Regions from separate parts of the Homo sapiens genome. Here regions 1 and 3 are each linked to region 2. The links come from fine-mapping of genetic effects on gene expression. A gene starts in region 2. Each other region holds a variant in brackets. All regions are shown on one strand. Distances are from middle to middle.

Region 1 (10,861 bases), 510 kb after region 2:
TCAAAGTTTTCTTTGTTTAAAAAGTCAGCCCATTTGTACCACAAGGCAGATTGTTCTATGGTTTGCTCCAATTTCCACTAGTCCTCTGCTATGATGACTGGGCACACACTGGCTTGGTCTTTCCAGTCTCACTGTAAGAAGATAGACCTTTAATCTCCTAATGCATTACCTGAATGAAGACTGGCAATTGAGATTTGTCAACATTGGCAAAAATGCCATTTAAAGTTTACAAAGAGCTATCAACTTCAAGGATGAAGACTGAAATTTAATTTTAAAGTAAATTACACTTTTGGAGAAGATTAATGCAAATCGTTAGATGTGAATTTAAGTCAAATGCTTGCCCATAGTTTTTGGAAAATACCTACCTATATGTATGTCTTAAAATTAGCAAAAAAGCACCATTCCGGATCAAGAAGTGTACTGTTTTATTTAGGAATCTAAATTAACTATATCTTAGTGTACTTACACCCTTGTGGATTTGGGAGCAGGGACTGAATCTCAAATGTCTTCAGAGAGAAGGCTGATAAAGTAAATGAGTGAAGTGAGCCAGGTGGGGCTTGAGGTAACCCAAGAGTTTATGCTTTGTTGAAGGGGTAACATTTACTCTGTCTCAACAGATTATGATCATGCAGAAATATGACTCTAAGATTGCCATATATTTCAGTTTTTCAAAAGAAGCTGATGTTCTAGACATTTATACAAAATATCCCATCATTAAAAGGTTGGCAAGTAATTCATAATTTTAAACCTATGTGAGTTAAATAGAATATGTCTGCTGAGTGGATATGGCTCACAAACTAACAGTGTATACCCTTCGTTATGGAGGAATGTCTCTTTGAAATCTGAATTTAGACTGTTCTGACTCCATAAATAATTGGATGACCTTGCATGATAGAATGTGTTCTGCAAGTAGGTCTTTCCTAGTTGTAATGCCTCGTTGGAAAAGACTGCAGAAGGGTCGTGTAGACTCTGTCTGGAAAGAAACTAGTCAAGGATAAATGCCGTGCAATCTGAAATGGATGGGCGATACGTTACCCAAGGTAATTAGTTAAAAATAAATAATCCACACTTCAAAAAATGTATTTCAAGACTCCAGTAATAGTTCCTCTGGGGACATCAAAGTCTGTGTGGGTGTTTCCCCTATGGAAAATAGTTGCTTTAAGTATGGCCACTTTTAATAGGTGATGAAAGTTTCTCTACACCACACTTCACATCCATCATCCCTGAGTCTTGTTTAAAGTTACAGCATGATCTATTTTGTGCTATGGAAAATCTAAAAGCACCTATACCATGTTTTAGGGAGAATAACTAGTGAAAGAGCTGTCTCCTTTCCCTAAGACCATATTGGAAATTCCAGCAATAGCTATCAGTGAAGAACTGTTGTACCCAGTAATAGAAATCTATTAATAGTAGGCCATAGCAAAGGCAGCAGCAAAACACAGCAATAAAAGGCAAGAGAACCCAATATAAAGAGTTTCCATGAATAAGCACACTGGGAAATCTCCCTAACCCCCAGATAACTGGGCATATATTGGCAATCTAATTTCTGGCAATAAAGCTTAAAGGGGAGTAATGCCATAATCATATGTATTTTAAAAATTGTTTCTTGTATTATACTTTTAGGATGATGAGGCTTAAAATATATAGGTTACACTCTACAACATAAATATTTCATAATATAATGCTCTGAATTTTGTGAAACTCAATTAACAATTTTATACTTCTGCAATCTAATGTTGGTATTTACTAATATCAGCATTACTGCTGTCAATTTTACAAGAATAAAGTATAAAATATGTGGCTTGTCGCCCATGTTTGCTTTTTGCTCAATTCATTGGTGCTATTCTTACAGCTTAGCACTCTGATAAACCCAAAACATTCCTTCTTCTCTTTGCCCTTCCAGAACCTCCTCTATAGCACCCCATATGCAAATCTACAAGATCACTTTACTAAAATAAACTGAATGAATGTTATAAGCTATATGAATAGCAAGATATAATATAGAATCTGTCCAAATTAAATGATTTGTTTCAAGATGTTGGCATCATCATCTTTTGCTTCTTAATAATCATAATATCCTTACAAAAGAAATCATCACAAAATGGGCACAAATACAGGATTTATATATTGTTTTTAAAGATCATCTCTGTTTATTGCAAAGCACTCACTCTTCCAAGATCTTCCACTGCCTTGTTTCTCTAGCTCTTCTGCAGATAGTCATTCTGTTTTCCATTCCAGTGTATCAAAAGAAACTTGAACACTATTTCTTACATTTTCATAATTTCATAATACAAAACATTTCTTAGACTGATTGAAATGACTCAAACAGACAAAGAAGAATTGGATGACCATGATTTTTAATGCTTTCTCATACGTCCACTTGGTCAGAATGCAATTTGACCAATGGACTCTTACACATATGCATGAATTTCTGCTATATTAAAAAATCTGTACAAGAGGCAGTGTGGGATATTAACTCAACTTCTTTTTAAATCTTATTGTCTTTGTCTATATTGTTTTGTTATCTATTCTAATAGACGATAAATAAGGCATCTCCAAGTTGTTATTCAATTAATTATTGTCTATTTTCATATCTTTAGAGAAATTCACTTTTGATGGCACTTTACTGAGAAGCAGTATATGGCTTTGGAAGAGGGAAGCCAGGAGGAACAGTCAACAATACTAGAGGGCTTTACCTCTTTAGAAAATGAGTAGGACAGGGAAAGACACATTCATTTCAGCTTGGATCATTACCACACTGGTTCTGTTCCTCTGTTTCTAGGTGATAGAAACAATTAAAATGGAAATCTGGTTCAAAGGAGATAAAGAAGAATAGGTCATTGCCCATCACTCTGAATATCCAGACACTAGTTCAGCGTGACTCATCTATCCACACTGTGAAACCAGTCTGGAGGGCTGAAGTTCTCACATATCTATAAATGATCATTTGTTTTATACTAAAAGCCTAGTATTATATCAGCTGTATTAATTACCACCCAAATTAAAGTTTAAATATTATTCTGTTTTCATTTTGATTGGGGGAGGTATGGCTGTGGGGTTTCTTTCTATTCTAGCAATGAAGAAAGACCAAGGTGACTTTGGAGAGGAAGTTGCCTTGTGATACTATCATTATCAGTAATTAGCCACAGTTAGTAAGCTTCTATTAATCAAATCCACATCTGGAAAGACTTTAACTAATTCTGTGAGATGAACAGTGTTTGCAAAATTTAAAGCATGGAAGGTAACATTGCATAATTTCACAAGCCAATGCAGGGCAGAAAAGAGAAAAAACTCTATCATTAAAGCATAAATAACCTTGTTTAATTAAGCCTATTATCTATAAAATTATATATAACATTTATATAAGTACATAGAATAATTATAACTATTCCCTTTAACAAAATTGGAAACTCAAAATAAAAAAAAATAACTTCTACATATATCCCTCTCATATATTAGTTAATGAGATGCTATAGCAAATGTCTAAGCATGTTGTAAATAAACAGGCAAAGGTAAAAATCTTAATTTTAAGGGACTGTGAGTGTAAATCCTTGGCATTTCTAGGCATGAGGGGAAATGTCCAAATTCTAAGGAAGAATGTAAGGGGTGAAGATGTGATATTACTATCCCTTTCCTCTGCCCTAGGAAAGGAGAGATGAAATACAAAGAGGAGGTTGGGCAGCTCCTACTCTCCTGTACCTTTAGCCAAGTGTTCTGGGGACACCAGAGAGGTACCAATCCATTCCAGAAAAAAAAAAGAAAAAAGTCTAAAACTTGGAATTTTTACTTTCAAACACAGAGCAATTTTATCCCTGAAAAAAATCTCCCCATTTGACTCATCTTAATATTAGCCAGCTTCACAACCCATGCGTACTAGTCAGGGTTCTCTTAAGGGAACAGAATTAATAGGATATATGTATATATGAAGGGGAGTTTATTAAGAAATGACTCACACAATCACAAAGTGAAGTCCCACGATAGGCCATCTACAAACTGAGGAGCAAGGAAGCCAGTCCGAGTCCCAAACCTCAAGAGCAGGGAAGCCAACTGTGCAGCCTTCAGTCTATGGCCAAAGGCCCGAGAGCCCCTGGCAAACTACTGGTGTAACTCCAAGAGTCCAAAAGTTGAAGAACTTGGAGTCTGATGTTCGAGGGCAGGAAGCATCCAGTGTAGGTGAAAGATGAAGACCAGAAGACTCAGCAAGTCAGCTCCTTCCACATTTTTCTGCCTGCTTTATTCTAGCCACAATGGCAGATGATTAGATGGTGACCACCCACACTGAGGGTGGGTCTGCCTCTCCCAGTTCACTGACTCAAATGTTTATCTCCTTTGGTAACACCCTTACAGACACACCCAGGAACACTACTTTGCATCCTTCAATTAAATCAAGTTGACACTCAATATTAACCATCATACCATGCTTTATTTAATTTTACTACCTCCTAATCCAAGACTTCCAAGAAACTATATTTATACCTAAATTAGCACAGCACCTACTGTATCTGCTTCCCGGTTTAGATGTAATGAAAAGAGCATAAAGTCTTGAGCCTACCATTTTCTAGTCAGGGAATATTGGGCAATTAATTAAACCTCACTGAGTCCTGTTTTTCTCTTCTACATTTTTTTGCAAAAGTCAAATCATTTTATGCTTTCTAAATTGCTCTACGAAGGAAAAATAGTAATATTCTCACAAAATAGATACTGCGGGATGATTGTATTTGCTTATATATTTTTTCTTTTATTGTTCTTTTTTCCTTCTGACTCTATCTGAAACTTGCCTCTTTCCCTAAGACATTATTTTCATCAGAGCATTGTCTCCTTCACTTTTTTTTGTCACCATGACCATGGAGGTATGGCAGATGTCTTCCTTGCTTCTTATAGCTACTTTCAGATTACTGTCTTCCCCTACTCCCTGAAATCCCTGGATTTTAAGCTTATACAATCAGAATATATCACTCCTATCCTTCCTAATAGATTTGCAGCACCTTGGTCCACTTGCCTTCATTCTGTAAAAATTTTAGTCCCCTATTCACGGTCATTTCTCTTAAATATTGCAGCTCTACAATCTTTGATTATTTTAAGATTCATAAAAACAATCTTTTCAATAACTTGTCCCTTCATTTATAAGTCAAATATTTGTTGAGTGCCTCAAATTTGTCAGGCCCTAATTTCAAGGTGGGAGATAGAGCAGGAAAGCAAAAAAAAAAATCACTGCTTTTAAGGAAATGGCATTCAAGTGGAGGAGATAGATAATAAATAAAACCAAAAAGTAAAAATATATAGTATTTCAGATCATGATAAGGGCTGAGAAGAAGAAAAAGATAAACCAAGAAACATAGCTATGTAATGTATATGTTTGGGGGTGGGGTGATGGGGCTTTGAAATTTTAAGAATGGTCAGAAAAAGTATCACTAAGAAGATGACTTCTGAATAAGGATATGAGGGAATTCAAAATACAAAGCCTTTTTAGCTTCTTGACCTTCTCCCCTCTAATAGTCTGTTGCCTACCCTACCTCAGCAGTATGTCCCCATAGACACAACTTATATCTTCTTGATACCAAGAAATGTACCCTTCCGTTCTCTCAGTTCCAAACCTGCCACTCTGTGATCACCACCCCTATCATTCCAACCCCTACCTTTGCGCATTCTAGCTCATACAGTCCTTCATTCCCACTGGATCTAGGGTTAGTTAGTTGTCTTACCAACTTTTTATTATTTCTCATCCCTCCTTTTGTTTTTACTTCCTTCCTTAATTAGTTGGTATTAATGGCCCACTACTAAAATCACTTTCTTGTATATAATATTAAGCCTCAACTGCCCTGCCTACTCCCTTTATTGTGCCCACTTGGCAGAATCCCAATCTTGATTAATCTACTCAATCTTGCATCTCAACAGCTAAATGTGATAATTACCTCATACATACTTTAATCTCCTCAAACCTGTAATAGTTTCTCTGACTCCCTCAAACTCAATTGAGGATTATGTGTCTTACGTTTCTGAGAAACTTCATTTCTGTATATTTCCAACATTACATTTACCAACCAACCCAAATACAGCTAATATACTCTGCCTTGTTGCTTCTCAGCAAGAATAAACTGTCCATGACTTATTTATTATTTACCTATTTATTTTTTTGAGATGGAGTTTCGCTCTTGTTCTGGTTGGAGTGCACTGGCATGATTTTGGCTCACTGCAACCTCC[G/A]CCTCCCAGGTTCAAGTGATTCTTCTGCCTCAGCCTCCCAAGTAGGTGGGATTCCAGGTGCATGCCACCACACCCAGCTAATTTTTTGTATTTTTAGTAGAGATGGGGTTTCATCATGTTGGCCAGGCTAGTCTCAAACTCTTGACCTCAGGTGATCTGCCTGCCTCAGCCTTCCAAAGTGCAGGGATTACAGGCGTGAGCCACCACGTACAGCCCATGACTTTCTTTAGGATGAACTCCTCCTTTAATAGACATAAATTATTCTCTAATCACATTAAATCCCTCATTTTACTAAATCCCCCATCAGCACACAAACATACTATAATATTTTATATCAAGAGAGAGTCAGGCCTCTGAGCCCAAGCCAAGCCATCACATCCCCTGTGACTTGCCGGTATATGCCCTGATGGCCTGAAGTAACTGAAGAATCACAAAAGAAGTGAATATGCCCTGCCCCACCTTAACTGATGACATTCCACCACAAAAGAAGTGTAAATGACTGGTCCTTGCCTTAAGTGATGACATTACCTTGTGAAAGTCCTTTTCCTAGCTCATCCTGGCTCAAAAAGCTCCCCCACTGAGCATCTTGCGACCCCCACTCCTGCCTGCCAGAGAACAAACCCCCTTTGACTGTAATTTTCCTTTACCTACCCAAATCCTATAAAACGGCCCCACCCCTATCTCCCTTCACTGACTCTCTTTTCAGACTCAGCCCGCCTGCACCCAGGTGAAATAAACAGCCATGTTGCTCACACAAAGCCTGTTTGGTGGTCTCTTCACACGGATGCGCATGAAATTTGGTGCCGTGACTCGGATCAGGGGACCTCCCTTGGGAGCTCAATCCCCTGTACTCCTGTTCTTTGCTCCGTGAGAAAGATCCACCTATGACCTCAGGTCCTCAGACTGACCAGCCCAAGGAACATCTCACCAATTTTAAATCAGGTAAGCGGCCTCTTCTTACTCTCTTCTCCAACCTCTCTCACTGTCCCTCAACCACTTTCTCCTTTCCACTCTTTAATCTCTCTCTTCTCTTAATTTCAATAACTTTCATTTTCTGATAGAGACAAAGGAGACACGTTTTATCCATGGACCCAAAACTCCGGCGCTGGTCACGGACTGGGAAGGCAGCCTTCCCTTGGTGTTTAATAATTGCAGGGACGCCTCTCTGATTATACACTGACGTTTCAAGGGTGTCAGACCACGCAGGGACGCCTGCCTTGGTCCTTCACCCTTAGTGGCAAGTCCCGCTTTCCTGGGGCAGGGGCAAGTACCCCAACCCCTTCTCCTTCACCCTTAGCAGCAAGTCCTGCTTTTCTAGGGGGCAAGAACCCCCAATCCCTTATTTCCACGCCCCAACCTCTTATCTCTGTGCCCCAATCCCTTATTTCCGCACCCCGACCTCTTATCTCTGTGCCCCAATCCCTTATTTCCACGCCCCAACCTCGTATCTCTGCACCCCAATCCCTTATTTCCATGCCCCGACCTCTTATCTCTGTGCCCCAACCCCTTTCCCCACTTTTCTGGAAGGTAAGATCCCCCGAACCCCTTCCCTCTGTTTCTCTACTCTCTTTTCTCTAGGCTTGCTTCCTTCACTATGGGCAACCTTCCACCCTCCATTCCTCCTCCTACTCCCTTGGCCTGTGTTCTCAAAAACTTAAAACCTCTTCAACTCACACCTGACCTAAAACTTAAATGCCTTATTTTCTTCTGCAATGCCACTTGACCCCAATACAAACTCGACAGTAGTTCCAAATAGCCAGAAAATGGCACTTTGAATTTTTCCATCCTGCAAGATCTAAATAATTCTTGTCATAAAATAGGCAAACGGTCTGAGGTGGCTGACGTCCAGGCATTCTTTTACACATCAGTCCCTTCCTAGTCTCTGTGCCCAGTGCAACTCGTCCCAAATCTTCCTTCTTTCCCTCCCACCTGTCCCCTCAGTACCAACCCCAAGCGTCGTTGAGTCTTTCTAATCTTCCTTTTCTACAGACCCATCTGACCTCTCCCTTCCTCCCCAGGCTGCTCCTCGCCAGGCCGAGCTAGGTCCCAATTCTTCCTCAGCCTCTGCTCCTCCACCCTATAATCCTTTTATCACCTCCCCTCCTCACACCTGGTCCGGATTACAGTTTCGTTCCGTGACTAGCCCTCCCCCTCCTGCCCAGCAATTTACTCTTAAAAAGGTGGCTGGAGCTAAAGGCATAGAGTCAAGGTTAATGCTCCTTTTTCCTTATCCCAAATCAGAAGCGTTTAGGCTCTTTTTCATCAAATATAAAAATCCAGCCCAGTTCATGACTTGTTTGGCAGCAACCCTGAGACGCTTCACAGCCCTAGACCCTAAAAGTTCAAAAGGCCGTCTTATTCTCAAAATACATTTTATTACCCAATCTGCTCCCAACATTAAATAAAACTCCAAAAATTAAATTCCGGCCCTCAAACCCCACAACAGGATTTAATTAACCTCGCCTTCAGGCATACAATAATAGAAAAAAGTTGCAATTCCTTGCCTCCACTGTGAGACAAACCCCAGCCACATCTCCAGCACACAAGAACTTCAAAACGCCTGAACCGCAGTGGCCAGGCGTTCCTCCAGAACCTCCTCCCACAGGAGCTTGCTACACATGCCAGAAATCTGGCCACTGGGCCAAGGAATGCCCGCAGCCCGGGATTCTTCCTAAGCCACGTCCCAGCTCTGTGGGACCCCACCGAAAATCGGACTGTTCAACTCACCTGGCAGCCACTCCCAGAGCCCCTGTAACTCTGGCCCAAGGCTCTCTGACTGACTCCTTCTCAGATCTTCTCGGCTTAGCGGCTGAAGACTGACACTGCCCGATAGCCTCGGAAGCCCCCTAGACCATCACGGACGCCAAGCTTCGGGTAACTCTCACAGTGGAAGGTAAGCCCATCCCCTTCTTAATCAATACGGAGGCTACTCACTCCACATTACCTTCTTTTCAAGGGCCTGTTTCCCTTGCCTCCATAACTGTTGTGGGTATTGATGGCCAGGCTTCTAAACCTCTTAAAACTCCCCAACTCTGGTGCCAACTTAGACAATACTCTTTTAAGCACTCCTTTTTAGTTATCCCCACCTGCCCAGTTTTCTTATTAGGCTGAGACACTTTAACTAAATTACCTGCTTCCCTGACTATTCCTGGACTACAGCTATATCTCATTGCCGCCCTTCTTCCCAATCCAAAGCCTCCTTTGCGTTCTCCTCTTGTATCCCCCCACCTTAACCCACAAGTATAAGATACCTCTACTCCCTCCTTGGCGACCAATCATGCACCCCTTACCATCTCATTAAAACCTAATCACCCTTACCCCACTCAACGCCAATATCCCATCCCGCAGCACACTTTAAAAAGATTAAAGCCTGTTATCACTCGCCTGCTACAGCATGGCCTTTTAAAGCCTATAAACTCTCCCTACAATTCCCCCATTTTACCTGTCCTAAAACCAGAGAAGCCTTACAAGTTAGTTCAGGATCTGCGCCTTATCAACCAAATTGTTTTGCCTATCCACCCCGTGGTGCCAAACCCATATACTCTCCTATCCTCAATACCTGCCTCTACAACCCATTATTCTGTTCTGGATCTCAAACATGCTTTCTTTACTATTCCTTTGCACCCTTAATCCCAGCCTCTCTTCGCTTTCACTTGGACTGACCCTGACACCCATCAAGCTCAGCAAATTACCTAGGCTGTACTGCCGCAAAGCTTCACAGACAGCCCCCATTACTTCAATCAAGCCCAAATTTCTTCCTCAACTGTTACCTATCTTGGCATAATTCTCATAAAAACACACGTGCTCTCCCTGCCAATCGTGTCTGACTGACCCCTCAAACCCCAGCACCTTCTACAAAACAACAACTCCTTTCCTTCCTAGGCATGGTTAGCGCGGTCAGAATTCTTACACAAGAGCCAGGCCCACACCCTGTAGCCTTTCTGTCCAAACTTGACCTTACTGTTTTAGCCTAGCCCTCATGTCTGCGTGCAGTGGCTGCCGCTGCTTTAATACTTTTAGAGGCCCTCAAAATCACAAACTATGCTCAACTCACTCTCTACAGTTCTCATAACTTCCAAAATCTATTTTCTTCCTCATACCTGATGCATATACTTTCTGCTTCCCGGCTCCTTCAGCTGTACTCACTCTTTGTTGAGTCTCCCACAATTACCGTTGTTCCTGGCCCAGACTTCAATCCGGCCTCCCACATTATTCCTGATACCACACCTGACCCCCATGACTGTATCCCTCTGATCCACCTGACATTCACCCCATTTCCCCAAATTTCCTTCTTTTCTGTTCCTCACCCTGATCATGCTTGATTTATTGATGGCGGTTCCACCCAGGCCTAATCGCCACACACCAGTAAAGGCAGGTTATACTATAGCACAAGCCACTAGCCCGCCTCTTAGAACCTCTCATTTCCTTTCCATAGTAGAAATCTATCCTCAAGGAAATAACTTCTCAGTGTTCCATCTGCTATTCTACTACTCCTCAGGTATTCTTCAGGCCCCTTCCCTTCTCTACACATCAAGCTCGAGGATTTGCCCCACCCAGGACTGGCAAATTAGCTTTACTCAACATGCCCTGAGTCAGATAACTAAAATACCTCTTAGTCTAGGTAGATACTTTCACTGGATAGGTAGAGGCCTTTCCTACA
Region 2 (10,861 bases):
GACTAGACTTGTTGAGGTGAGGATACAAAGCTAAGTTGTAATGCTATTGTGGAGGGCCTTCCATTGTTAGGAAACCACATTCCATTGCAGTAACTAGGTAGGTGATTAATATGATTGGTTTTATGCTTCAGGGGACTAATTATATTGAAATATGGAGAAGGTATAGGAAGAATAGAATACTGTTAGAGCAATTCCTTCGAGAATTGAGAAACTGACCTGCACCAGAGCTAAGATAGAAGGCATGAGAGAAGTGATGCAGTTACATGACTTTATCATTCTAGGATGCCAATCCAAGCCTGAGCTGCTTTGTGAAGGTCTGACATTGCACATGAGATAGGACTTTCAACAAACTAGCTGCCAGGTGTCTTGGCCTTTTTTGGATATTCTAGATGCTGTGGTTGTAGGTGCTGTAGTTGCATCACCTAGATTCCTCCTTCAGGGCTGAAACACTAATTTCCCCACAGCCAGGATTTTGCTGTTGACAGCTCACAACTGAGTCCCTCCTCATAACTGCCCCAAGTCAAAAGAAGCTGCCATTGCTTAAGGTTATGCCTTTCCCCTGTAGAGTGGAAGCCCACATTTAGTGAGTGATCCATGAGGGGTAACAAACACTGGCTCCCTTGTCTCACTCAATTCAGGACAACTATGAAAGGCTATCACAGCTCCAGAGTTACCTTTGGTGGTTGCCTGAAGCCTCCTTCGGAATTCCATCATGGTTCAAGTTTCTCTCTGACAGTTCCTGCTTCCCTCATCCCTTCGTTGAGGTTTTGCTGCATGCCTCAATATATCTCCTGCATGCAAATTTCTGAATCTCAAGTCTGTTTCTGAGAAACTCAATTTGAGACACATTTGATCCCAAATGCAAATGTTAGTAATCATTCTCTAACATTAGTTAGCACCCCCTATTGTCATACATAGAGATATTAATTTAGAGGCAATTGCACCTTCCAAAGGCATTGTATTCACTCTCAGGAACTAGTTCAGACATTGACGAAATCTAGTTCTTTAATGACTATGCCTGATAAAAGTTGAAATAAGCTTTATCACTTATAGGTAGTGAAGATTTATTTTCTTCCTCTGAATCACTGTAGATATCATATAATGAATCATTTCCCATGTGACATGAATATGAATCATTTTCAGTATGGTACTCAACTTCCGGGAGAGTCACGTCTGTAGTCGTGTATGCCACAAAAGATGTCTACTTGCAAATAATATAGATTATATAATTTTTTACACATAAAGAATACTTTTATTGTCGTTGCTTATTTGCCTTTCTGTTAGTTTATTTGTTGGGGTATGGGGTGATGGAAATAAATTCACGACAGGAGATTGAAAACGCAAACTGCTTGAGAATAGAAAGTCTAACATTTGTGCTTAAAACATTACCTGATACATAGTAGGTATCAGTAAACATTCATTAAGTATAATAAAAGACCAGTAAATAAGTAATTAAATATAATTTAACGTGTAGTCCATTGGAGCTCTGCAGGTAGGAAAAAAAGGACAATGAGAGGGGGGTCTAGTGAAGACTTTAAATCATCAAGTGTCAATCTCAAGCTATTCTAACTGCATTAAAATGAATTTAACATGTTTTGGGGTTCATTAGCATTTTTATTAATAAGTTTGATTTATTTATTTATTAAGAAGTTTGATTTAATACAAAGAATAATTTTCAAAGAGTGGGGGCATTCATGGATTGTAAAGCCAAATAATTCAGTGGAAATACAAATAATTTGATAAAAGAGACTTTTTTAGATTTATTTACCTACATAATGCAGTATAGAGTCTCTTTTTCTCTCTCTCTCTTAAAAAATCTGCATTATCCCTCCCATTCTTGATGTCAGATTGAAAGTTAAGCAGGGTCCCAGCATGACTGTCATGGTACAAAAGTCAGTTTGAAACCTTACCTGGCTATTCTCCAGCTGATACAATTCCCAGAGTGCTCTCACTGATGAAGAAGGGAAAGTACTGCTGTTGCTACCACTTCTTTTTCATGGCTTGGAGAGATTTTCATGTCTGCTTTTGCTTTCATCTTCCCTCATTATTGCTTAGGAAAAGAATGACCAACAGTTTTGCTTGCCAGGAACTATCCCAGGGACTGCCCTAGTTTTAGCATGGAAAGTCCCATGTCCATGAGACTGAAGACACCCCTCAGTCTGTGACAAATTAGGACACTTGGCTGCCCCAGTAATTAATGATCTTCTGATTAATTTTTATTAAATGAAAGTGATTTGATTAGTTATTGGTCTGAGGCCATTTTTTGCTTTGCTGTAGATCTTACATGAGCAAGTCAGTGAGATGCAAAATGCTCCAGGACTGGGATGAATTCTTTACCCAAGCAAACAGATAAACAAAAAAGTGCTACTATTTTTCTGGTATGTCAATATTCTCTGCCAGCCTTGTACTCAAGAAAGAAGAACTGAGTGGGAGTACTCTCAGAAGGCCTGGAAATTTTGAGGAAGAATGAGTTTTAAATTGAGGTATTTTGCTTTAGTTTGAACCTAGGACAAGATGGATTCTTAGACCAGTTTGGGAAGTCCCAGAAGATGAGCAGGTAATTAGTCAAGACTAGGGATAAAGGAAACCAACAAATGTGAGTTTAAAATACTTCCTTAGGAGGACAGAGTACATGGTTAGTATCATGTCTCATATTTCTTTGCCTTCTGTCTCCTTCTAACATGAAACCAATTGTCACTTTTTTGGGGGGATACATTTTTTCCCCAGATTTTATTCAATAACATGCTGATGTGGCATATAATATCTTTGATTCTGTCTTAAGATTAAAGTTGAAAATGGAAACCAGTTTCAACCAGCAATGAATACAAAACCTTGAAAGATGAACAAGCTGTTGATACAAATTTCCTGAAAATGTCAGCCTGTTTCAGTTCTCTTATGGGAAGTCAGGGAGATTTATGTATTCAGGTTGGACCAAAATGTGAAATGAGAAGTGGCAACACATACCTGGAGACTGGAGGGCTGCAGAAGTAATCAGTATTTTAGAACCTCAAGAAAAGATGAAGCCAAGGAGGACAGAATTAAGGTGCTTTAAGGACTTTCTTAATTAGTCTCAGGACTAATTAAGGACTTGCTTCTAGTGCTTAATTATTTGAAAATTATGAAGGCTGTATGTTTCCTTCTTACAAAAGTAAAAGTTATCTTCCATCTAGCTAGCCCCTTGCCCCTCAGTATCTTCCTCACTCCATCAGGTAAAAAGTGGCAGATTGATGCAGTTGATAGTGGTGGAATTTCCATCCCCAAGTGACCAGTTGGCAAAGAGTGAGAAGGGATGTTAGCCACCCTCCATTCAATGTTTGACATTTGTAATGAGCATATTTTCAAAATGGAGGTCTGCCGGTATATATTGAAGTTTTCATCCATTCATAATTCTCAGGTTAGTTGCTATAGTGATGATGGTCCAAGGTACCATTTTATTTTGCCTTTGTTAAAATAGAGATGATAAGACTGACAGAATGTACTCTGTGTTCATAAGACACCAAATTATAAACAAGACCTAAGACCATGCCAGGCAAAGGTCAAGTCACACACTCCTACACTTAAAAAATAAACTATATTCTAACTGCCAAAAGGGTTTTCTTTTTCTCTAGCATCTAAACAAACACTGGCCTCCAGATAAGCAATATTGAAACAATTGCATCTTACTGACTGCAAGACACTAACTAATTAATCCTCCACCCCTACCCCTGTTCCACAAGCCATAACTACAGCTCTGACTGGACAAGAGACTGATTTTAATAACTCTCCTGATAAGAGACCACTGACCATAGACTGGTTCTGGCTGGTTTACAGAGGCTGTGGCACTGAGTGCCTTCATGTCTTCTGTTTCACCTTTTGACATATAGGGCCTAATTATAATACATTTAATTGTTAAGTCTCCACCTCAAAGTGAACATGAGACATATGCAACTTGCATGTTTGCTTACTATTCATGTTTGCTTACTAAACATGCATGTTGCATATGTCCCATGTTCACTTTGATGTGGAAACTTAACCCACCTGCTTCAGAAATATGCATAGTTCATGTACCCCTTGCTTCAGAAATATTCATAGTTCCTCCTATAACCTGTTGAATATGTATACTTGGCCAACTCATTTAGCATAAATTCCTGTTCCACCCTTTCCTCCCTCAAAGTGCCTGCTTTTTGTCTCTGCCAGAGGCTACACTTCCCAGCCTGTCAAGATGTCCAGCCTGCAGCTGTAACCCTTTATAAGAAATGAAGTTCTCCTTTCCAAATTTATGAACCTCAGGATTGTTTGTCAACATGTTGCTACTGCAATAGTCTCCTAACTGCTCTCCCTGTTGTCACTGTTGCTAACTCCAAATTCATTGTCTCATTGCAGCCAGAATGATCTTTGAAAAACACAGATCATATCAATTCATCTGCCACTCCACTCCTGGGCTTAAACCCCTCTAATAACCTCCTGTCACACTCAATATTAAATATCTGAATTCCTTATCTCAGTAAACAAAGCATCACATAATCTGGCCCTTGCCTATTTGTCTTACATCATCTTACCTGCAAAGCTCCAGCTACACAGTTTTTTTTTTTTCTTTTTTGAATATGCTAAGCTAATGTCTATGGACCTTTGCAGTAACTCCAAATGTTTCCCCTTAGAGCTCTTGGAATGACTGGGTCTTTTTTGTTAGTCACTGAGTCTGTCATTCTTTATCATCACAATATTTTAAATTTCTACAGGCCACCTTTCCAATATGGACATTTTTTTTCCTTGCTTATGTATTTATTTCTTATTGTCTGTTTTCACTCTTCAGCCAGACTGTCAGCTTCATGAAAGCAAGGGCTTGTTATCTTGTTCTGTGCACTAACCTCCACTTCTGGAACAGTGCCTAGCAAATAATAGGCACTCAATGAATCTTTGTTAAAGTAACTAATTTTTATCTTCAAAGAGCTGACATATCTGGTTGTATATCAAATATAATAAATGAAAAGTTAAATACATATGGCAACAAACAGAAGAGATGTATATGTAAGTACTACATAAAGCATTGATTTTGTTAAAAATGAAAAGGTATTTAGGTTCTAAAAGCCAGTTTTGACTAAGGGAGGGCGGAAGTCACGGAGGTGGGGGGAAGAGAGAGGAGGGAGAGCAGAACTAGTAGACAGAGGATTTGTGCACAAACTTGAGTGCTTGCACAAGTTTTGCAAAGGAGACCTAGCTTGCCCAAAGCTGAAATTCTCCAAAACTGGAGCTTGCAGGGAAATGACAGTGGGCTGAAATATTTTGAGGTACAACTTTCCACTCCCAAAGAGGCCTGCTATCCCCTCCCACTCCCCACTCCGGCCTTTCCTTGGCTTGGCTTTTTTTAAAGAAAAAAAAAAAAAAAACTAAGCAGGTTTCTTTAGAAGAAAAAGAGGAAGTTCATAAAGAGTGTTTGTGGTAGTAGGGGTGGGGTGGAGTGAGGAGTGAGGAGGCCGTCACCTCCCATGGAATCCTTAGTCTTGGGTTTGTGAACCACGCATGGGGGCTGTTTTAGCACAGCTGCTAAAATAGGCCAGGCCTGCAGGACATACGGGTATGTTTAGTTTCTAGATAACTTTTGTTTTTCTAAACTCCTTCTTCCCTTTCCCAAATCTGGCAAGCGTTAGTCATCTTCAACTCGGCAGGAACCCACAAGTGTGCATGTGTGGCTCGGAGGCTTCAGCTGGGGCCCCGCCCTCGTCCCCAGGCGCACACTGACACACGCAGCCCAGACCCGGCCCGAGCGGGCTCCTGCCCTCGGCGTGGCTTCTCTCCAGCCGGGAGTCCCAGGGCCAGCTAGCCTCCTCCCCTAAAGGGGACGGCCTGTCAGCGCAGTGCCAGAGTCCAGCACCGGGAGGAAAGTTTCGGAGTGCGGAGGGAGTTGGGGCCGCCGGAGGAGAAGAGTCTCCACTCCTAGTTTGTTCTGCCGTCGCCGCGTCCCAGGGACCCCTTGTCCCGAAGCGCACGGCAGCGGGGGGGACTTCAGCCCTCCAGGCGGGGTGGGTTCCAGGTCCGGGTCCGAGGCGGGCGCTGGAGGCTCGGCCCCAGGCCGGAGAGGAACTCCTTTCGCGAGCTGTCGCCGTGGGCCCGCATTGTCTGCAGGAACTCTCCGGAATCGGGAGGGGGAGGACTGGATCGCGCTTCCACTGGGATTCGTCAAGAGTTCCGGCGGCAGCTGCGGCGGTGGCGGAGACTCCCTTTGTCCTCTCAGGACCTCCCTCTCTCCCTCCCTGTCAGCTGGTGGGTCCCGCTGCCGCAGGCGCCGGCGTCTCAGCTGCTCGCCGCCCCCCACCCCAGAGTGCGTGCCGGGTGACTCCCGCCACCTTTGCGACCCTCCTGAGCTTAGGGGACTGCGAGCGGGAGGGAGTCTCAGGCCCCCGGCCGCAGGATGGTGGCGGAGCGGTCCCCGGCCCGCAGCCCCGGGAGCTGGCTGTTCCCCGGGCTGTGGCTGTTGGTGCTCAGCGGTCCCGGGGGGCTGCTGCGCGCCCAGGAGCAGCCCTCCTGCAGAAGAGCCTTTGATCTCTACTTCGTCCTGGACAAGTGAGTGTGCGAGGGAGGTCCAGGGTCTCCTGGTGAGGGCGGCACTGGATCAGCTGGGGCTGAGGCTGAGATGCGTGTGCGCACCCCGGGGAGTGGTGTTGGAAACCCGCGGAGGGGTGCCCTGTTGCTGTCTTCTTTCAAAGGGCAAGCGCGTTCGGATCTGTGTGGGCGGAGATCAGCCGGGTCGGGGGTAGTGATTGGAGCCCCGGGCTACTTGGCTCTTTGGGGAGTTGGGGTATTCACTGTTTGCCAGTCTTTTGGCCTCTTGGGAAATGGGAGTGTGGCCTCTTGCGGGCCACGCTCCATCGGCCACAGAGTCCTTACCCACCTCCTCGACCCTGCTCGTACGCAGGCTAAAGTTTGCCTGGTTTTATCCTAATCATAGCGCTTTCATTGGAGCCAGGAAAAGCCTAGGGTTAACATGCCCAATGTGGTTTGCATTTCCTGCGAAGAAAGGCTTTTGTGTTTACTCTGAAGAGCTGGGTTCCACTCTAAACAATTAGGCAGGTATTTACCCACCCCAGAAAACGGGCTGACTTCTTCTTCTTCTTTTTTTTTTTGACGGAGTCTTGCTCTGGGACTGACTTCTTTAACTCTGGGTACCACCAAAGTTTCAGCTACAGATACCCTTACTTAGCTTGAAAAAGAGGCCAGGTGCCCCTATGTTCGTGGCATTGAAGAAGGAACCATTTCAAAATGTTTACTTTTCAGTTCCGTGTTTTGTTTCTCTGATCAGTTCAATTTCATCTTTCAGGTCTGGGAGTGTGGCAAATAACTGGATTGAAATTTATAATTTCGTACAGCAACTTGCGGAGAGATTTGTGAGGTATCTTTCTTACTTTACTTTTCTAGGCAGTGGAGAAGTAGAGCAAAGTGTAGAATTTCCCTTTTCTGAAACCTTTTATAGGAAAAACTTTTCCTGAAATGTTACTTTTAAGTGCCTCAAGGTCGTATTGCACACATGCTGTTATTAGGACAGCCCTTCAGTCCTTGAGGGCTTATTTCATCTGGATCCCAGAAACTTGGCTCAGACTCTGGGGAAGCATCTTCAAATACTATTCCAAATGTCTTTTTCTTTCCGAATTTTCATCTGTTTTGAATTTCAGTTATGCTTTCTCATAATTTATCACATTAAAAAAATAAATTTTATGCGAATAGTATCCATAATATATTTTTCTTTCCACACATTTCTTAGCATTATAGAGGCCCTCATTAAAACAAACAAAAAGTGTTGGAAAACTTCAAATGAACATGTGTTAATAACCCGCTACCAGAAAAGGCACTTGTGTGTGTGTTTAAAGCAACGACTTGTGTTTACACAATGTGTGGGTGTGTGGTTGGTTTAAAATTTAACTGTTCTATATATGCAATAAGCATCACCAGGAAAGACTGGTTTCCTCTCCTATAAAAAGCATTACTGGTATGAAATCCAGCTTACTCTCTTATTTAGAGGTAACTAGGAATTAGTGGCATCTCCTATTTAAAAATAACCTCAGGACACTAGGCTTTTGAGGCTTTTTTTTTCCTTCTTTTTTTTTTAAAGAAAAAATGCAATGAGCAAACACAAGTTTATCAAGATAATGGAAAGGACATGAATAGGAACTGTATCATTAAATATTGCTTCTTTCAGTCTTGTTAGCCCAAATGTTTTCTGTAAAACAGGCTTGGATGATCAAAACATTTTGAAAGTCATGTTGCAAGTAACTTCAAACAATCTGTAGAGGCCTAGGCAATCCTTGCTTTCAGTTATTGGCAGCAGTAAAGTTATCCCTATAAAAATGTATGCCTGTCCATGTTCAATCATCAGTCCCTTGCTTAAGAAGCCAAGTTTAACACTCATTTCTGGACAGGGTCTGAGGTAAAACTGTCTAGGAAAGAAAAACAAACAAGATCCTATGTCCCTAAATGTCAAAGGCAGAACAGACAGTTGTTTATAAATTTTCTAATTTAATCCTTCAATGTGAAAAGGGTGTCATGTAGATTTTGATCAAAAGCAATGAATCACATCACTACAACATTTTAAAGAAGCAAGCTCTTATCTTAACTCATTGATCTGGTTTTTAAGTTGGAATTCTATAATACACAGTTGTCTGGCTCAAGCCTAGTTGCTCAATTACTAACAATACATTGTAGGAAGTGAATAAGGGGTGACTAATGAAGAGACTGACTTTTAAAATATGTATAAGCCTTTGAGAGGATTCTGATTTTCAGTTTATAGATTCTAGTTTCATATCTTCAGTTTTGAATCTTAGTAGTAGTTGCAGAGAGTGTCCGAGAAGCAAGAACCGTTCTGTGAGAGACATGCCTAAAACTTGAAAGATATAGCTGACTGGGGCACTTGTTGCCAATGGAAAATAGCATGTTTGAGACTTAGAAAATAAAAAATGCCTAAGCAGAAAGTGATTTATTGTTTCTTTCACATTTTCCATGACTCTTTAAGTAGTCTTACTTCAGGATGACTTTTTTATAGACTCATATCATAGTTATGGTCATTAAGTCAAACTGGGTACTCTCCACCCATAAGTGTTGATAACCATAATCACTTTGAAGGGCCTGGCCACCTTTAAAGGAAATGTTGTAGAAAACCAAGGGAAGAGGAATTTTCTACGAAAGAATTTTACATCAGCTTAGAATTTATCTTTCCAGTTAGTCTCTCTCTAAATGCAAGTCCTTATGGGTCATGGAGGAGTATGTGAGTGCTGGGAAGCGTTGACTAAATCCAAAATGACTTATGCAACAATGTTAAGCAGAGTTCGTCTATTTACTTAGGGAATGTCATTTAAAAGAAGCCTGGACCATTCAGTGAGACCAATTTTAAATGAACCTCCCTAACTATACATCTGTATCGTATCAATATTTCTTTTTAAAAATGTTTTAACTGCCTCTTTTCTTATTTTGCAGCCCTGAAATGAGATTATCTTTCATTGTGTTTTCTTCTCAAGCAACTATTATTTTGCCATTAACTGGAGACAGGTTAGTGCATTATCATTTCACTGCAGGCTTTTAGTAGAGATGAATTTTAAAGGCATGATTGATATTTCCAAGTGGTGATTCAGGCCTCTCAGTGGAATCAAGCAGATGCACAGACAATTCAGTTCTCTAATAGAAGGGAAAGGAGGTATGAGTAATATAAAAGAGCAGTTAATCTGAAAATCAATATCATTTATAGTGGCTGTGGAATGTGCAGTGAAATCTAGATCCCTGTCTTAGTTGTATATTCACCACTTCCTACCTTCCCCGGCCTCTCTGTTACTGTAAGTAGTTCTACATTTTTCTTGTTTAGATATAATATATTAATCAACCAGGAATTTGAAGAACATTGAGGGGGAGAAAGATATGGATCCTTTTGGATAATTTCCTAGATTCAGTAGACATCCTGGATTTCTGGTCTTTCTCTGAGGTCCATTAATGCTGAATATATTCACCTTTATAAGGGAACTTAGTATATATCAATATGTATACCAATATATCTCTATATCTATCTACCTATCTATTTAATCTCCTTAGTGTTTTTTAAAAGGTGTCTTTTTCAGACCAATGTCACAGTATTTCATATGACCATTTCTGTGTCATTCAAACAGTGTCAATGACAAGTTAGAAATAGTCATTGATATATTTTATGTTATTTTTATTTTTTGAGACAGAGTCTCTCTCTGTTGCCCAGGCTGGAGTGCAGTGGTGCTATCTTGGCTCACTGCAGCCCCCACCTCCCAGGTTCAAGCAATTCTCATGCTTCAGCCTCCCGAGTAGCTGGGATTATAGGCACATGCCACCACACCTGGCCAATTTTTGTATTTTTTTAGTAGAGACGGGGGTTTCACTGTATTGGCCAGGTTGATCTTGAACTCCTGACCTCAAGAGATCTGCCTGCCTTGACCTCCCAAAGTTCTGGGATTATAGGTGTGAGCCACCACACCCCACCTCACTGACATGTTTTAAAGAATGGGATCCATAGTGGGAGGGAGCTTTTATTCTTCATTTTTATGTCTACTTTATTTAACAGAGTATGTAAGCCAGTTTTTGGTCAATAAATTCTTGTTGAATGAATGAATGAGTGGTTTCCTGTTATTTTGAAATAAAATTTTTCTGAACTGTAGTTTCAGCAAGGGAAGCTGGTGTACTTTGTTTTGCATGATATGTGAATTTCTGAAAAGTTAACTGTAAAAACAGTTTTTTGTAAATTAAGTTTTCCCTTGAAAAGGTCAAGAAATCATAATATCTAAAGGAACTGGGGGAGAGAACTTATTTATAATTCACTTAATTGATTTAGAAAATTATCCGTATAAGATTTTAATCTTTGTGCTTTTAGTTTTCCTTTTCC
Region 3 (10,861 bases), 55 kb before region 2:
ACCTGAGACTAGAAGCATGGAATGACCTGAATTGGATTGAAATTGGTTTTCTCTAGATTGCTTTTTAGATAATTATAGATACCTGAATTAATCAAAAACATGCGCTTAAGCTTTGCAGAGCAGCTTGTCAAAGTCTGCCTGCTTAAGAATACCCTGTTTTTGCTCTTTTTTAAAATTCACTACAGAAGAAACATTCTTCTATGGTAACACATGATGAAAGTGACACTGATTTGGAATGTAAATATATGCAGGGTGTTTTAAACCGACAGCATTTTGTATGAAAAAAATACATTAAAAAATATATACTATCTTTGAAATGCAATTGACAGGATAAAACAATAACAATCATTCTATTCTAATTTCTAAAGTATACATTATAAGGGGATATTCACTCAAAGATATAATTTTTTACCTTGTAAGAAAAATGTCAATATTTTAGTTATGTTTTAGTACTTGACTAAGAAATGAAGCTAGTCGAAAAATTGACTTCTCTTTAAATCAAATCATACAAAATCGCTGATATTTGATTTTTTTAACCTACACAGGATAATTTCATGTAGTTCAATCTAACACATATGTCTTCTTCAAAGAGACATGAACCCCCCAAAAAGAATACTTTAAAAAAATCACAACTCTTGCCAGGTGCGGTGACTCACATCTGTAATCTCAGCATTTTGGGAGGCTGAGGCCGGCGGATGGCTTGAGGCCAGAAGTTCAAGACCAGCCGGGCCAACATGGTGGAACCCTGTCTCTATCGAAAATACAAAACTTAGTCAGGCATGGTGGCATGCGCCTGTAATCCCAGCTACTTGGGAAGCTGAGGCATGAGAATCACTTGAACCACAGGAGGTGGAGGTTACGGTGAGCAGAGATCATGCCACTGCATTCCAGCCTAAGCGACAGAACAGGCTGTCTGTTTTTTTGTTGTTGTCTCAAAAAAAAAAAAAAAAAAGAAAGCAACTCTTTTATGCTTTACATATTTTGCATAGCATAAGTTTTTAAATTCTACTACTTGTAATTTATTAGATATGTATTTGTTCAGGCAATTTCCCAGGCTACTTTGTGGAAATTGGAATGAAATATTTGGAATCCATATGGATTTAAGGCTCTAGTTTAGACTAACGTTCTCAACATTTTTAAGGTCTTGAATACAGCCATTGGTTTGTCAGGACAATTTAATGAGTTTTATTACATTTACACACCCATATATCCACCACCACAATCAAAATGTAAAATGTTTCCTTCACCCTACCTTCTGTTCCTTACAGCCAATGCCCCCATACCCAGAGGCAACCACTGATCTGATTTCTATTGCTATAGATTAATTTTGCCTTGCCTAGAACATGTAAAAGTGAGATGACACAGTACGTATGCTTTTGTTTCTGCCTTCAGCCAGCAAAATATTTTAGATTTATCCATGTTATTGTATTAGTAGTTTCTTCTTATTGCAACTCTGTAGCATTCCATTGAATGAATGCATTGTTATTTGCTTATCCATTCACCTTCAGATGGACATATAGGTTCTTACCAGTTTGGGTTTATTATGAATAAAGCTGCCATGAATAACTGTGTGTAAGACTCTGTGTCCATTTCTCTTGGGAATGTACTTAGAAGTGGAATTGCTTGGTCATAGAGTAAATGTATGTTTAACTTTATAATAAATTATCAAATTACTTTTCAAAGTAGTAATACCTTGATTTTTATTTCATAATCTCTGGATTCATTTTCTTGTTGCCATTATGACAAATTACCATAAATTTAGTGCTTTTAAACAACTGGTATTAATTATCTTACAGTCCTGAAAGTCAGAAGTACAAAATTAATCTTAGGGCTTGCTCCTTATGGAGGCTCTGAGGAGAGAATCCATTTTCTTGTCTTTTTAAGTTTCTAATGGCTACCTGCATGTCTTGGCTCACGATCACTACAGCATGTTGCTTCTGTCTTCACATTTCCTACTCTCTCTTTAATCTCCGAACTCCTTCTTTTGGGGAAGAATCCCTGTGATTACCTTAAGCCTGCCAAGATAATCCAGGACATTCCCTTATCTCAAGATCCTTAACTTAAATCACATCTACAAAGTCCCTTTTGGCACATAAGGTAATAGTCACAGGTTCTGCGGATTAGGATGTGGATATATTAGTGGGCCATTTTTCAGCCTACTACAGGCTCTAACTTTCTAATTGAATAGTTTTAATCAGAATACCCATATAGCCAAAACTCTGAGGTACATACAAAGTTTTTGGTATCACCTCCTCAGGCTTAATAGCTACTATTAATTGATGGCTACCATATGCCAAATGCTGTGCTGAGTACTTTGCACATAATCTTAACTCACACAACTATCCTGTCATATGATTTTAAATGTCCCCAGCTTAAGATGAAAAGACTGTGCAGACTTTTGTACAAGGTCACAGCATAACAGAGCTAGGATTGAAACCTGTTGCAGCTTTACATAAAGTCTATACTGTTAACTACTATGATTCATTGCATTTATCTCATTCAGTGTTTCTTATAATTTTTACTTTACTACTTAGTTTACTACTTAGCTTCATTTCATAGAGATGTTTCAACAGCATTTATTTGTAACCTTCTTAGTATGAAGCATTACAGCAGACACTGTCAGTAAAGAAAAAGGAATTGTTGCCAGCAATCCAAATTGGGAGAGTGAACAAGTATAAAAATTACAGTAATTGATATTTAGTGAAAGTACACATAAGAGATAGAAACAGAGTTATGAGACTTCAAAGTAGAGAAATCACATTTAGTTTTATATGGGGATGGTGGAGGAGGAGTATTGCGAATCTATGGGAAGGCAGAGGGTACTCATCAAGAAAGGCCTCACAGAGTACATACAATTATGAGATATTATTTTTAGATTTATTGAATCTAAATTTAGATAAATCTAAATACACTTGAAAAAGGTGTAAACTGCTATTCTTTACTGGGTCCATTTTAGCCATCATAACAACTTGTTTGTGTTCAATACAGTCTAAGTGGTTGGTACACAGTAGTTAGAAAGCTACTAGATTTAATTCTTTATAGCAGAATTATATCTTTAAATATTTCCCTATTTAGGTTGCAGACTATTGCCTTAAGATGAGAAACACAAGAGATCTCAGCAAGACCTAAGTCAAATTCTTGACTATTTCAGTTCTGAAGTAACAATAATTTTGATAATTTTAATAGTAAAAAAACTGCTTACTATATGCCACATACAGTCCTAAACACTATATATATTCCAGACACTGTACTAAGTGCTTAGCTTATTTAATCACAACAACCCTTTGAGACAGAAACTTTATTATGCTCTTTTTTCCAGACGAAGAAACTATACAGGTTGATTTATGTAACGTCAAATAGCTAGTATACATTTACACTGAGATTTGAACCTGGGCATTCTGGCCCTTGAAACCAAGTGCCTAATCATTATATATTACTGACTCTAAGAGTAGACTAAATAGACTATTACTACTCTACACCAGAAACTGTTAGCGGTCGAAAAGCCAGTGCTTTTGATTTACATGAGCCTTCTTGAGAGACAATATATTTTTCCTTAAAATTTCAAGAGGTAGATTTTGAACATCAAGAGGACACAGGATATGTAATTTATCCTGTGCATCATAGAGTTGACAAAAATGCAGGATGATATAGGATCAGGGTCTTTTTTGGTCACTTAAAGGAGATGAAAGTCTGATCAGCTGGTGGCAAAAGAAAAATCTGAGAAGGCCCTACTAGGGCTTTAATGGGTGCCAGAAAAGTTCCTGCTTACTTCCATTGTGTGTAGTGTAAACCTCATAGGGAGGACAAAAGAAAGCCTGGCTAAGTGTATGGGGATCCATAGCAGATGGAGCTTCAGAGGGTGCAGCTCCCAAACTGCAAAGTAAAAGACGTCCCAAGTCCAATATCATGCCTGAGTGACAATGGACCATTACTGAAGGAGGTGTCTGATCATAGGTCCAAAGACAACCTCTCAGAGCCCCCAGGTACTCTAGAAGCAAGGGCTAAATGTAGGCTGGTGTATGACAGGATACACTGTCCAAGCCAGGGCAAGCATCAAGGGACAGAATGGTACCCAAAGCCTGAATGAACAAAACACTCAACTTTGGCCAGTGTGGATGGAGGATGATGTCATACCTTATAGACATTCCAGTTCTGATCCTGGAGACAAAAAGTAAGACTCCTAGAATTTAGATTATCCTTAAGGGGAGGAGAAAGAGGAAAAACATGAAACAGAGTTTTAAACCAAAACAGATTCAGATATATCTGAAAGGGACTGAGCCACCTTGAATTAGCAAAGTTAACTTTTCAATTAGAACAAACTTGAGAAATAAGTAAATAATTTATAGAAAAACAATAAAAAGTGCATTTTAGAAAATCTTACTTTCGTTGCCTGAGCTTCACACTTCTTCTAGGGAGAGAAGAAAAAAAAAACGTTAACACAGTTACTAGGCTTGAAAAAGGCTATCTTGCTATAAACATTCTTTCCTCAAGATTTTAGACGTTTTGTTCATAGGTCAGGAAATTTAGCCCTAAGATATTTCAAGAGGTTAATCTTAGAGAATAAGTCTTCTCAAGATCATTGAGAAGATTATAAGAGGTTATATGTGTGAAAAGTTAGTGGAAAGTACTACGTGTAAAACACCATTGTTTTCATTTTTTAATTGGCAAAGGCATGATTAGTGGCAAAAACAGGGTCTGTAAACTGTATTTCATTTCTTTTACTATAATATCATAAACATTGTCTTCCATTTCCTCGAGACCAATTTTCCTTTTCTGCTCCAACTACTATAAAATGATAGTATCAGATAACAGTGAAAAGGAAATAACTCAGGTTCATCAGTCTTCAGTTCACACAAAACAAGGCAATATTAGGTGTCTGAGTAGTTGTTAATAGCAGCTTGACTATGTGAGTGTCACTGGGCTGTGAATATTTTCTGAAGTTCATCATGTTGGCAGTTTAATGTGAGATATTTTATAGGGGAGGGGTGGGTAGGAGAATATGCAGAAGATCTAGCTCCTATTTCCTGTTGATTGTAATCACATTTGTCACTCACCTGCTTGAACTGCTAAAACCCTTTAGGAGCCTGATTGAAGAAGCCTCCTGTTAAGTGGAAAAAAGTCTCTCCTGCTTCTTAGCAAATCACAGTAAACATGTCAACACATTATGGGATGCAGTAAACTTTTGAATATATGAACATCTGATGAGAAGATCTTTTTGATCAGAGCTTTAATGTTGGTTCAATAGGCAGGACTAGTTATCCGTTTTGTTTACTTTCAGGTATCTGAGGCAGTTATACACACATGCTGGGATTTGGGGTCAGTTCCCTGCGAAATGTATGGAAACACATTTAACACATAGACTTTTGAGTCTTCTCTCCCCGCTGACCCTAGTATTTTAAAACAGGATGTCCTGGCTCTAGGAAAGTGCCTCGATATTCTAAAATAGATACATTAAATACAGTACAAAAATGCAGTTGAATTTTTCTTCTGGATGTTTGTAGCACATTTGTGCAAATTGTAAATAATTTGTTTTGCTGAATTTTCTTTAGCACATTCTTAGTGAGATAGTAATATTTAATATCACTGACAAATATATTGGGCATCTCTAGTAAAAGTTTTTCTAATTATTTGGAAATGTAGACATTCAGAAGTTGTCATAGCTATAAATACTGATAATTTAAGAAAACAATAATTGCTCTGATGACCTTAGTTATAAGAATAAATATTCCTACTAATAATAACCACTGCTACATTTATTGAGCACTTGTTATGTTCTAGACATTGTTCACAACATTTTCCATGCATTAGCTCATTAATCACAACAAC[C/AACAACC]CTGAGGTAGGTACTACTATTATTCCCATTTTAAAGATAGGAAAACTGAGGTACTGAAACGTTAACTACCTTGCTCTGGGTTACATGGCTAGTGAGTATTAAAGCTGTAATGTGAACAGTTACTCTAACTCTAAAACCAGTACTCTTAATCACCAGGCTAATTATATTCTACTTTCTTCAGTTTTTATTTTTCATTTTCTGTTTTTTTCATCAGTCTCTCCAAATTCTCTTTCTTGCTCATCCTCTCTCTTTACCTGTACTATCACCATCCCCATTCATTTTGCGGGTATCCGTTGCTGTTCATCCTCCCCTTCTCATCCTCTCTTTCTTTCTCATCACACTACCTCTTCTGTCTAGAATTTCATCTTCCAAAGTCTTCTTCATGTAAAAAATATTTCACTAAACAAATACAAGTGTTTGTACCTGAGGTTTTAATTGGAGGCTTTGAAGAAAATAACAGGTTAGAATTGAGAGATTGTAGGTTCTAACATTAAGAGAAATGAGGGAGGAGACATTTTACCAACATTTGAGTTGAAGCTTCATCCAAAGGTATTTAAGGCATTGAGTTTCAATGGATATCCAATGTTCTGGCCCCTAATGTCTTTTCTCTTCACTGTTTGATTTCTCCAGGAGAATTAGGTGGCTGGTGTGGGGTGGGGGTAGGGGCAGGTAAGGAGAAGCAAAAATAAATACATAACAAGGCAGGATACAGAGGTGATTCACTAACTGTCAGGAAGTTTAAAGTGTGAACAAGACTGCCAGTAGGAAGTGAGTCACTAACAGGCAACCCAGGGGAAATCTCCCAAGAGAGAAGAGAAAAGTTAGTTGAAAGAGAGTTGACTGTTGGGAAAGTTATTAAAGTAAGGTCTTCAGTAGACACAGTAACTTGGAGGTTTGATGTATAACAGGGAGAGGCTATCTGATCCCTGATAGCTCCCTTGTTCATGCCGGAGTTTTTTTTTTTTTTTTTTTTTTTTTTTTTTTTTTTTTTAGTATTTATTTATTTATTATTTTTAGTAATTCTTTTCCTTCTTTTAAAATAAAAATAAGCTGTAAGAAATAAAGTTAATATTTATCCAGAAGTCTTATGCACTAGGTACTTTATATAAATCATTTTATCTTAAAAATAACTCTGTGAAGCAGACACAAATATTATCTGTATTTTCCAGATAGGAAAACTGAGAAGTTAAGTATCTTGCCCAAGAATACACAGGAAAGGATGTGGCAGATACAATATTAAACAAGACATCAGGCTCCAGAGTCTACCAGACCAACCACTTTGCAATATTGCCTCTCATTATTAATAAATGACTAATTTCTTAGTGAAGGCATGAGTAGATAAGGCTCTTTTTTCTCCTCATTTATAGAAAAACTCAGAGAAAGAATGAGACAGAGCGACTAGAAAGGAGGAGGAAGGAAGGTGAGAGAGAGTGACAATTGAACAAAAGAAAAGAGTGATGACACAAAAAATAACAATAGTCAATAACATTTTTATGTGTTTCTTCTGTTTCTGTGCCAGAAACTTTGTTAGGCAACTTGTATACATTACTTTATTAATCACTCCAAGCACTTCATATGTGGATGCTTTTATTTTACCTCCTTATATTTATGAAGATGTTGGCATGGAAAGTTAAGCAAATTGCCCAACATTATGTAGCTAATATATGACAGAGCTGGGCTTTGAACCCAGGCCCGGGGATCCTTTTCCTCAACCACATTACTGAGCAGACTGAAAAGAAACTCCTAATGATGACTGGGGTGAGGCTAGTCCTCTGTAAAGTTACCAAATTGATCATTGTTGGGGTCTTCAATTTTTTGTCCCCGTTTAATAATTATAGTCTAGATGATCTGAACCCCTCCTCCCTAAATTGTTATTGAGAACCACATGGTCAAGCTTAGATTAGGAGACAGTATGGAGAGCAGCTGTTAAAATTCCAGCAGTGGGGTCTTCAATTTTGTAATATTTGATAGCCTTAATGGCTGTTCTCCCCTCCTTTCTGCCCCATGAGTGGGTAGCAGAAATTCCTGAATGAGAACTGCAAGCTAAGAGTCAGGAGGACTGCTCAGCTGGAGGGTGGGCAATAAAACCCAGTATAACACAGCATGAAAATAGTTTTTGGGGAAAAGAGATGTTGGAAATATACAAGCTTCAAAGCCTAGAGAGAAGAAAATTCAGATTTTTTGGGGGGCAGGAAACAGTAGCTGATAGTAGATGTGGTTATGATGTCACCAGGACTTCACCCAAATTAGCTCTTCATGACTTTACCTAGTGCCGCAGATGAAAGGAAATTAGATTCTCAAAGACTCAGGAGGATTAGAAGCTGAAGGCACTATTTTATTCTAAGCTGGAGATAGAAACAAGATAGGTCAGACCACAAGGGTCTGAAACCAGACTTCACAGGCTAGACTAAGGCCTGTTAGTTGAAAAAGCAATACCCCTGGCAGGGAAAAGCAGAATTTTCCGAATCTTGTAGAGGCTTGGGTCATATGCAGTGGTTTGCATCTGTTGACCACTCAGGATCCCGGTTACAAATACCTTCAAGGCAAATTATCCTCAGATGTCAGCAACATTTATTCATTTGTTCATCAAACATTCATGTTCTTGTAACGTGCCAGCCATGGTGCTAGGTGCTGGGTATATAGTAGAAAATGAAATAAATGTAACCTCTGCTCTCATGAAGTTTGCCATCTGGTGGAGAAGCCAGCAATTGAACAGATAAATACACAAAAACAAGTTTCAAGTTATAGAGAAATGAAGGAAAAGTGAAAAGTGCTTTGAGGAGAAGAAAGGCAGGGACATTGTACTGGACACAGAGATGAGCTATGCAGATCTTCCTTCAAGAAAAGACTTTCTGAGAATTTTTGCCTCTATGGTTATCAGTGACAGTGACCTGTAAGTTTCTTTTTCTGTTGAGTCATTATCTGGCTTTGTTATCAGGGTAATGCTAGCTACATAGAATGAATTTATGAAAGTATTCCCTCCTCTTTAATTTTTTTGAGAGTTTGATTCATTATTCAAATGTTTGGTAGAGTTCAGCAGTAAGCCATCAGGTCCTCAGCTTTTCTTGGATGGGAGACTTATGGCTTTTATTCTACTACTCATTGCTGGCTTGTTGAGGTTTTCTCTTGCTTCATATTTCAATCTTGGTAGGTTTTATGTGTTTAGGAATTTATCCATTTCTTCTAGGTTTTCCAATTTGTTGGCATATAGTTAGTTGCTCACACTAGTCTTGAATTATTCTTTGTATGTCTGAGGTCTCAGTTGTTATCTCTCCTTTTTTGTTTGTGTTTTTATATATTTATTTGGATCTTCTCTCTTTTTCTTTGTGTAACTAAACATTTGTTGAATTTTTAATCTTTACAAAAAAACAACATTTTGTTTTGTTGATATTCTGTATTTTTTTTGTCTCAGTTTTACTTATTTCTACTCTGGTCCTCATTATTTCTTTCTTTCTACTAATTTTGGGTTTGGTTTGTTCTTGCTTTTCTAGTTCCTTGAGATGTGTTTTTAGGTTGTTTATTTCTCCTTTTATGATATAGGTGTTTATTGCTTTAAACTTCTCTCTTAATACTGCTTTTGCTGTGCCTCATAGATTTTGATATGTTGTATTTTCATTTTCATTTGTTTCATTCTTAATTTCTTCATTGATCCATTGATCAATGCAGAGCATGTTGTTTAATTTGTACATGTTTGTGCATTTTCCAAGGTTTCTCTTGTTATTAATTTCTAGTTTTATTCTATTGTGGTAGTAAAGATGCTTGATATGATTTCTATTATTTTGAATTTGTTCAGACTTGTCTTGTGGCTTAAGATATAGTCTACTGTGAAGAATGTTCCATGCACTAGTGGAAAGAATGTATTTTTTTCAGCAGTTGAGCAAAATATTATGTAAATATCACTTGGGTCTATTAGACCTATTGTGCAGTATAGTTCCACTGGTTCTTCGTTGATTTTCTGTCTGGATGATGTTCCCATTACTGACAGTGTGGTGTAAAAGTCCCTTACTATTTTTGTATTGCATTCTATCTTTCCCTTTAGATCTTTTAATACTTGCTGTATATACCTGGGAGCTCTGGTGTTGGGTGAATATATACTTATAATTGTTATAATTTCTCTTGCTGAATTGACCCCTTTATCATTATACAGTGACTTTCTTGTCTCTTTTTACATTCTTAGATTTGTAGTCTGTTTTATCTGATATAAACATAGCTATTCTTGATCGTTTTTGGTTTTCACTTGCATGGAATATATTTTCCTACCCCCTCACTTTCAATCTATGTGCATTTTTGTAGGTAAAGTGGGTTTCTTGAAGGCAGCATATAGTTGGGTCTTGATTTTTTTATATTCAGCCAATCTATGCATTTTACATGGAGATTTCAGACCATTTACATTCTATGTTATTGTTGATGAGTAAGGACTTACTATGGCCACTTTATTGCCTATTTTCTGGTTGTTTTCAGACTTTTCAGTCTTACTATATTGCTTTGTGTTGAAGTGGTTTATCTGGTAAGATGTTTTAATTTGTTGCTTATTTTTAATGTATCTATTACAAGTTTTTGTGCTGTGGTTATCATGAGGCTTATGAAAAACATCTTAAAGATATAGCAAGTTATTTTAAAGAGATATTTTGATCACAAATAAAGTAATAGAAACAAACAAAAGCACACACACACACACACACAAATACTAGCAAACTGAATTCAACAATGTATTAAAGGCTGGGTGCTGTGGCTCACGCCTGTAATCCCAGCACTTTGGGAGTCTGCGGCAGGTGGATCACAAGGTCAGGAGATTGAGACCATCCTAGCTAACATGGTGAAACCCCATCTCTACTAAAAATACAAAAAAGTAGCCAGGCATGGTGGCAGGCGCCTGTAATCCCAGATACTCAGGAGGCTGAGGCAGGAGAATGGTGTGAACCCAGGAGGCCGAGCTTGCAGCGAGCCAAGATTGCGCCACTGCACTCCAGCCTGGGCGACAGAGCAAGACTCCATCTCAAAAAAACAAAACAAAACAATGTATTAAAAAGGTTCT

What was found. PIP is the estimated chance that this variant, and not a neighbour inherited with it, causes the effect. A credible set is the group of variants that fine-mapping cannot tell apart.
Region 1: its variant is the best candidate, but not a certain one, in a credible set for the expression of ANTXR2 in whole blood (TOPMed, PIP 0.70).
Region 3: its variant is the best candidate, but not a certain one, in a credible set for the expression of ANTXR2 in whole blood (TOPMed, PIP 0.82).

Annotation. Positions count from the first base shown.
Region 1 is chr4:79,555,394-79,566,254 of GRCh38, reverse strand. All of the region lies in intron 3 of LINC00989 (long intergenic non-protein coding RNA 989), which reads right to left. LOC107986294 (a long non-coding RNA gene) reads right to left here and starts at 4,100. Exons shown (of 7, transcript XR_007058155.1): 1 at 3,954-4,100. RefSeq lists enhancers at 5,731-6,726, 6,727-7,724. The variant G/A (reference allele first, on the strand shown) is at 6,202.
Region 2 is chr4:80,068,088-80,078,948 of GRCh38, reverse strand. It overlaps ANTXR2 (ANTXR cell adhesion molecule 2), which reads left to right and starts at 5,720. Exons shown (of 17, transcript NM_058172.6): 1 at 5,720-6,540; 2 at 7,295-7,366; 3 at 9,442-9,513. The coding sequence starts at 6,389. RefSeq lists enhancers at 1,401-2,600, 5,371-5,650, 5,981-6,090 and a silencer at 6,271-6,430.
Region 3 is chr4:80,123,244-80,134,104 of GRCh38, reverse strand. No RefSeq gene overlaps it. Among named protein-coding and RNA genes, the nearest start is that of ANTXR2, 55 kb to the right of the region's middle. RefSeq lists a cis regulatory region at 6,503-6,640. The variant C/AACAACC (reference allele first, on the strand shown) is at 5,827.